2 linked regions of the Homo sapiens genome follow. The protein of the gene in region 2 purifies or fractionates together with the protein of the main gene of each other region. This does not show direct contact. Each region holds a gene or a part of one and is shown on either strand. Other genes may lie near its edges.

Region 1 (3,892 bases), about 210 Mb from region 2:
CAGCCAGGCTTGCCCTTCATTCCAAGCAAGACCAGGACTTCTTTGTAACGCCCACCCAGACAAAAGATTGGTTTCTGCCTCCTGTGTTGGAAGGGGAACTGGTATGGGGTGTGGTCGGGCCCGGTAGGTCTACTGGGCCTTGGCAGGCATCCGGTAGTGGGACTCAGGTTGGCTCTTCCCTTGCAGGTACTTTCAGCCCCGTCACTCTGGCCTTGTTCTTCGTTCTCTATTTCTTGCTTGCATGTTGGACTTACGGCATTTCTGTTCCAAGTGGCCTTTTTGTGCCTTCTCTGCTGTGTGGAGCTGCTTTTGGACGTTTAGTTGCCAATGTCCTAAAAAGGTACTCTGTGTGTGTGCGTGTGTGTGCGCATGTGCATGTGTGTGCACGTGTGCGTGTGTATGCATGTGTGTGCGTGTGCGTGCGTTGATGTGTCTGTGCCCATGCATGCACATATGTGCATAGGCACAAGAGTATGAGCTGTAGGTCCTCCCCACAGCCTATCAGTGTGGTTCAAAGCCATGTTCTCGGTGTTTTCCTTCACTAGCTACATTGGATTGGGCCACATCTATTCGGGGACCTTTGCCCTGATTGGTGCAGCGGCTTTCTTGGGCGGGGTGGTCCGCATGACCATCAGCCTCACGGTCATCCTGATCGAGTCCACCAATGAGATCACCTACGGGCTCCCCATCATGGTCACACTGATGGTGAGCACACTCCCTCCAGGCCCCTGTCAGGCTCAGGGCCACGTCCGCCCCACAGGACCTATTTTTAGGTCTTTGCTTTGTGTTTCAGGTGGCCAAATGGACAGGGGACTTTTTCAATAAGGGCATTTATGATATCCACGTGGGCCTGCGAGGCGTGCCGCTTCTGGAATGGGAGACAGAGGTGGAAATGGACAAGTAAGGCCATGATTTTGCTCATGTCCTAGTTTCAGAATGTATAAGCTCTGAGGCCTAAGGAATGTTGTTATTAGGGTAGGAAACAGTAACTCACTTTTCTTGGGCTGAAAGAAGCAACACACCCATTCCTGAGCATGTGTGAGAATGTGGAGCAGCCCATGGGCTGGGGGCTGCGGGGGCAGGGCAGGGGACACGGGCACTGTGGGACTGCAGTGGGCAGGGCCTCTTCGTGGTGGTTTGACTCCCATGGCATTCTGGTTAGATATGAGGTGAGGTCTCTGGATCAAGTTCGTGATGTGATTGAATGTTTAAGGGTATGCCAAGCCCCAGGAGTGAGAATAGCCTGTTTCACATGTGCCCACCAGAATGCCCTACTGCCAGCCGGGATTGTTCTGGGCATAATCACCTCATAACCCACCTGCTAATCCACAGGTACCTGGGCTTCCTGTGTCTAGATAGCAGGCAAGGCCCTTACGGGCTAACACGGGGGCCAGCAAGCCGTTTCTGTGGAGGGCCAGACAGGAGTTTATTTTCAACTTTCCGGGCTGTATGGTCTCTGTCACGACTACTCGACTCTGTCATTGCAGCAGGAAAGCAGTAAGCGTGACGGACTTGATCAGTGGGCTACAGTTTGCTGTGCCCTGATCTAAAGGGGGACCCAAGTGCTGTGTTTATTTTATTATTATTGTTTTTCTTTTTTGGGACAGGATCTCACTCTGTCGCCTAGGCTGGAGTAGGGTGGCATGATTATAGCTCACTGCAACCTATGCCTCCCAGGCTCAAGCGATCCTCCACCTCAGCCTCCTGAGTAGCTGGGATCACAGGCGCGTGCCACCACACCTGGCTAATTTTTAACATTTTTTTTATAGAAATGGGGTTTTGCTGTGTTGCCCAGGCTGGTTTTGAACTCCTGGGCTCAAGCAATCTGCTGGCCTCGGCCTCCCAAAGTGCTGGGATTACATGCGTGAGCCGCTGCACCCAGCCCACCCATTTACCCAGTTGTGGTAAATGCTGTAGCAGAATTAGCAGTTCAGGGGTAGTATGTGGAGCGTGCTGCAGGGCACCGAGGAGGGCGTGGCCAGCCCCTGGACCAGCAGCCAGGGCTTCCTGGTGAGGGGATGTTGCTGTTGAGCTGAGGGATGAGCCCGAGCCCATCAGCCTGGTACAGCAGGGTACGACATTCCAGGTGCGGGAACAGCATGTGTCGGGGGATAGAAGTACAAAGGAATGCATCGGGTTTGAGGGAGAGCTGGGGCAGTTCAGAAGAGCCCCCCACCCCGCCCGTGGTCTGAGCAGGGCTGGAGAGCCAGCACAGCTTGCTCCCAGGGGCCTGCGGGCACTGTCATGAGGCTGGATGACTTGCCCTCCTCCCCCAGGCTGAGAGCCAGCGACATCATGGAGCCCAACCTGACCTACGTCTACCCGCACACCCGCATCCAGTCTCTGGTGAGCATCCTGCGCACCACGGTCCACCATGCCTTCCCGGTGGTCACAGAGAACCGCGGTAACGAGAAGGAGTTCATGAAGGGCAACCAGCTCATCAGCAACAACATCAAGTTCAAGGTAAAGAAAACGGCATGAGAGGAAAGGCAGGTGAGAGACAAGCGGTCCCGTCTCACACGGCTTAGTGCTTTGCCCACCCCTGGCTGGGGTGGACTTACCGGCTCTCAGGGGAAGTTGGCACTGTTCTCATCACATGCGACAGGGAGAGTAGATTTGACAGCAGGGGCAGCTTTATCAGGCCGTGAAGATGTGTGTGCGTTCTTGCCGCAATGAGCATGTGGACAGATCTGTTTTTCAAGTCAGCAGCTTTCATGGTTTGTTTACCATGTGAGAGTATCAGGGAGAGTTCTAGAGATGCCAGCAACAGAAATGGACTTCGACCTCCTTAAGAAAGAGAAAGAAATCCACAGGAAAGCTCAGGACAGCTGGGAAAGCTGAAGGACCAGAACCATGTGCTGTGGGGAGCAGTGCAGGGTCTAGCAGACATCCCTTGGGTACCAGGAGGAAGGAGCACTGGCCCTGGGTTCCTCCTGATTCCGATTCAGAATCCAGGGAGAGGGGGTATCCTGTTGCCTCACTTGGGTCATGTGCCACTCCTTGGCTTTGGGGGCAGGCACGTTGATTGAAAATTCTATCAAGACAGGATGTAGGAGATGGCTTGTTCCCCTCTGGAGAATCAAGCTGCTCTTCCCAGATTAAAGGAAACCACAGAAGCTGCAGCCAGGTCCTAGGGTTCAGGCTCATTTGAACCACCAGCCTGAGCCACTCTTTTGAACCTCAGCCCCATTAAGTTCCTGCGTCCGGATGTGCTTCTGACCCTCCCTGTCACCCAAATCCTTAAGCTCCATCAGTACTGCTGTGTTCGTTTGCCCATGCGCAGTAGCCTGTGGCCTCCCCACCCACAGAAATCCAGCATCCTCACCCGGGCTGGCGAGCAGCGCAAACGGAGCCAGTCCATGAAGTCCTACCCATCCAGCGAGCTACGGAACATGTGTGATGAGCACATCGCCTCTGAGGAGCCAGCCGAGAAGGAGGACCTCCTGCAGCAGATGCTGGAAAGGAGGTGAGAGCCTGGCGGGGCCCCCACTGCCCGCAGGGCTACACAGCGGTGGGGTGAGCCTTTGGCTCAGATGTTGTGAGGTGGCTCCTGAGTTTCCTGGGAAAGTTGGATGGGGAGCGGGCTGGGAACATGGATCAGAAGCGCTCCCGCTGAGGGTATCCCAGGCAGCATCTGGTTTTTGTGTAACAGATACACTCCCTACCCCAACCTATACCCTGACCAGTCCCCAAGTGAAGACTGGACCATGGAGGAGCGGTTCCGCCCTCTGACCTTCCACGGCCTGATCCTTCGGTCGCAGCTTGTCACCCTGCTTGTCCGAGGAGTTTGTTACTCTGAAAGCCAGTCGGTAAGTCTCTCCGAGGCAGAAATCAGCCAGGCCAGACCTGACGAAGCTCGAGGGGTTGGGCGCTGCCGGCGGGCCGTGAACAG
Region 2 (4,284 bases):
TGATTTAAGGTGTTTCAGAATACATAACTCAAACACTGCTCTTAAATAATGCTTGTCCTTTGGCCTGAATAACATTAAATTGAGAGTGGTTCTGGATCAAAATTCAGTCTACTTACTCAGCTCTTCCATGTTGACTCCTTTTGGGACCATCTGTAGCAGAATGGCAGCGGTCTCCTTGATAAGCGGGAAGGCAGATGACAAAATGATGATGACCATGAGGACAGTCAGGCTGGGGTCAATGTAACACTGCCAGTTACACGGGTCCTCACTCTTCAGGGGAAGCACATAGAATATGATGGCCGTGATGACCACAACCACGGACCCCAGGGCATCTCCCATCACATGCAAAAGTACACCTGCCAGGAAGAAAGACTACTGCAGCACAGATGCAAATCTGGAAGCCACGTGACACTCACTGACTTGGGTGTCCGGGTATATGAATATCTGTTACCATTTGGAGTTTTTTGGTTTTTGTTTTGGTTAGAACAGTAGGATGAATCAAAATAATGGCAACTACTTCTTAGGAAACAAAACCCCAGGCCACCATCGCAGGACTCAGAGTACCTTGGAAGAGCAACAGCCTAGGAAGATTCTGACCTGCAGGAAGAGCGACTGTGCCGTCTCACTGGGCCACATCGCTACCACTCACCACCCATCAAAGGGCACCAAGCTGGAAAACAGGGGCTGTGCAAATGATTTCTTTTTCTTTCAGACAATCATCTGTGCTTTACGTTGTTTTAAACATGTTTAAGGGGAGAGAGAACAAGTTGTATTAAGAGTGTTTAAAACAAATTGTCTTTTTTCTACCTTGATCCACTTTCCCCTTTCCCTGTAAGCATTTACCTACTTTGTATTTAGTCTGTGGTCATTTAAATGGCATTTGGTTTAAGAGGTGTCCAAGAACAGGGACTCTGGCAACATTTCCATTGCATAAAGAGCCATTTATCACAATAAAATAAAATTAAAATTCTACAGATAATACTAAAAATTGTGGGTGCCTTTAATTAAGGGAATTGTTTCTAAAGATATTGATTATGATATAGAACACATGCATTCCTCAGCAAAGATTTGAGTGCCCAATTGTTAGCCAAAGACTAAATTGGGATTCAGTAAGTAAATTAGGTAAAAATTTGGTCAGAAAAATTATAAAATATAAACACAAAGTTTTGGGTTTTGGTTTTGGGGGATTTTGTTTGTTTTTTACAAAAAGCAACATCTGAATCTTGCAATTCAAAGTATAGTTTGCAAACCAGCAGCATCAGCATCACCTAGGAGGTTGTTAGAAATGATGCATCTCAGGACCCACCTCAGATCTGTAGAATCTGAACCTGCGTTTTAAAAAGATGCCCAGGTGAGTCTGGGCGTGGTGGCTCACTCCTGTAATCCCAGCACTTTGGGAGGCCAAGGCAGGTAGATCATCTGAAGTCAGGAGTTCAAGACCAGCCTGGCCAATATGGTGAAACCCTATCTCTACTAAAAATACAAAAAATTAGCTGGACATTGTGGGGGCATCTGTAATCCCAGCTACTCAGAAGGCTGAGGCAGGAGAATCGCTTGAACCCAGGAGGCAGAGGTTGCAGTGAGCCGAGATAGTGCCATTGTACTCCAGCCTGGGCAACAAGAGTGAAACTCTGTCTCAAAAAAAAAAAAAAAAAATGCCCAGATGATTGGAATGCACATACAAGTTTCCAAAGCACTGCTCTAGAAGAAAGCATATATATTAAGAAAGGTCTGCTTTGTCTCTCCATGTATTCCACAGACTTATGCAGTAGAATTAATAATAATCCAAATTACTAACAACTTACTCATGGCTAAGACTAAACAGTCTCATTTGGAAGGTGCTTTAATTGAGCTAATTCCTCCTCTTGGCAACAACTCCACAATTCTAAATAACATCATAGGTAAAATGGCATGTGAACACTAAATGTAATTTGAGGCAGTTGCCTCAAATTTTCCCCAAAAAAATACAGGAATAAAAAGAATTCCCATATTTCCTTTTGGATGAGTGTTTACTTATGATAATAAGATCTTGATTCAATATATACATTAACATTCTCATTTTCTAATGCTGTGCTCCTTTCTCCCAACACCCCACCCCCAAAGGAGCTTTTAACTCCCCAGTCCCTGTCCTGAACCACTGAAGGGAAACTCAAAAATACTTTGTTCCTCTACAAGGAGCTAAGAATCGAAGCTTTAACTTGCTTCAGGACAGTACAAAATGCTACCATAAAAATATGAAAGCCTAATATCTCCTATACACATGTGATGTCATGTTTACTGCGTGAGACAGTCTGTTATTCTCTGATTGTCTCATACATGTTAGGTCCATTTCCTCCGTAAGTAACATGAGGATCAGGGCCATACTCCAAATTGCCTTTGTTTATATAATAGCAATGTAGGCATTCAATAAAACAGTAGCTTCTGGTTGATTGTCATAACTCCTATGACATACAGTAACTCTTGTCTTTAATAATAATAACTATTATTATTATTATGCTAACTAACACATATGCTCCAGGTATTGATTTAAGCGTATTATACTTACCCATTAAGTCCTTTTAAGGACTGTAAGGTGGTTACCCTTGTAAAAATAAGTAATGCAAAATCTAAGCTGTTGGAACTCAAAAGTATTTTGAGCCTTCAAGGAATGTGAATTACAGGGCCTGAGCTACGTGACAGGCAGCTGTAAGCTGTTGTATGTCTGAATTCAGTCTTTTTCCTTACCTGCATTGCTCTGTAAAATGTTGTAAATGGCAAAGGGCCCCAGGGAAGACCCCCTTCTCTCTTCCTGTTGATTTTCATTCTCCCTCTTACCTTTTTCATACAAGACATCATGGCTATCACAGTCCCTTAATATGGAATGTTAAATACACTCTTTTAAGTTGGAAAGGAAATGAAAACCAGCTATAAAGAAAACAAGCCGCGTGGAAAAGAAAACAAATTGTAACTAATTTTTTTAACTACTAAACCAGGCTTGTATACAAAATGTTGTAACCCTGCTAAATTTCTTTGTCTTATATATAAGCAAGAATTTAGCTTTTAACTTTGGAACCCTATCCCCATTTCTCTGGAGTGATGAGTCCCGGAATGGCCATTGCCAACTTTTCACTTGAATAAACTCTGGAAAACTGGAATCTGACCCTTTTGATTATTTATGGCTGGTACTCTCTTCATTTTACAAATGAGGAAACTGAGGCACAGAATACATAAGTAACTTGTCCAAAATCACACAACTAAAAAGTGTTAACTGGGGATATCAATCTGGGTGGTCTGACCAGAGATCTACTGTGCATCCTGCCTCATGTAAGTTCTAAAATTCAATTTCAGCTTTTCCTTCTGAGAAATCCCACTATTACCCCCTAAGAATTACATAAAATAGTAACTTTTGAACTTGTTTTTCCCATAATCCACAGTAAGAATTATGTTTTGCATCCTAGCACAGAGATACAAATTGCAACAAATAATTCATGGGAAAGCAAAACTCATCCTTATATATGACTTCTTAATATTATCTATTCTATTTCATTCAATTATAATTAATTTTCTACTAAACTAATTCTAGGGCCCAAATTGTCGCAGCCTTCAGTTTGAAAAACTGTTTAAAGCAGTATCCCACTCAATTCCTGACATTTAATAATGCAATGTATCTTCTGGCTGCCCATGCAAAGATGAAGAAGGCCTGGTCATGACCATTAACTACAGTGCACTGGCAAAATTCTGTGGGGTGTCTCTGAGTGTGTGTGTGTGTGTGTGTGTGTGTGTGTGTGAAAGAGAGAGAGAGACAGAGAGAGAGAGAGAGAGAGAGACCGAGAGAGAGAGACAGAGAGAGAGAAAAAATGGGGTCTCCCTCTGTCACCCAGGCTGGAGTACAGTGGCACAATCATAGCTCACTCCAACTTCGAACTCTTGGGCTCAAATGATCCTTCCATCTCAGCCTCCCAAGTATCTAGGACTACAGATGTGTGCCACTGCACTGGTTAATTTTTTTACTTTTTAAAAGAATTTTTTTACCTTCTTGTTTGTGTGTGTGTGTGTGTGTTTTTTTTTTTTTTTTTTTTTTTTTTTTTTTTTTTTTTTTTTTTTTTTTTTTTTTGCAGAGACAGGGGTTTGCTATGTTACCCGGGCTGGTCTCAAACTCCTGGCCTCAAGTAATCCTCTTGCCTCAGCCTCTCAAAATGGAAGATTCTGAGATAAATACATCGATAATCTCCTCAGGGAGGAAAAGAGTCTCCTGTGATGAGACATCTCAGGAAAGTCTTGTTGAGAGGTAGGTAATTTGGGCAG

Evidence for each region. The genes of interacting proteins can lie anywhere in the genome.
Region 1: the proteins of SLC30A10 (region 2) and CLCN6 purify together in Homo sapiens (affinity purification with mass spectrometry; one large-scale study listed by BioGRID and IntAct). This does not show direct contact.

Annotation. Positions count from the first base shown.
Region 1 is NC_000001.11:11,833,691-11,837,582, forward strand, and holds part of CLCN6 (H(+)/Cl(-) exchange transporter 6), read left to right. Parts: intron 1-186; coding exon 187-340; intron 341-545; coding exon 546-705; intron 706-793; coding exon 794-900; intron 901-2,276; coding exon 2,277-2,463; intron 2,464-3,308; coding exon 3,309-3,466; intron 3,467-3,652; coding exon 3,653-3,809; intron 3,810-3,892. UniProt on the Homo sapiens protein: Voltage-gated channel mediating the exchange of chloride ions against protons. Functions as antiporter and contributes to the acidification of the late endosome lumen.
Region 2 is NC_000001.11:219,918,139-219,922,422, forward strand, and holds part of SLC30A10 (calcium/manganese antiporter SLC30A10), read right to left. Parts: intron 357-4,284; coding exon 117-356; intron 1-116. UniProt on the Homo sapiens protein: Calcium:manganese antiporter of the plasma membrane mediating the efflux of intracellular manganese coupled to an active extracellular calcium exchange.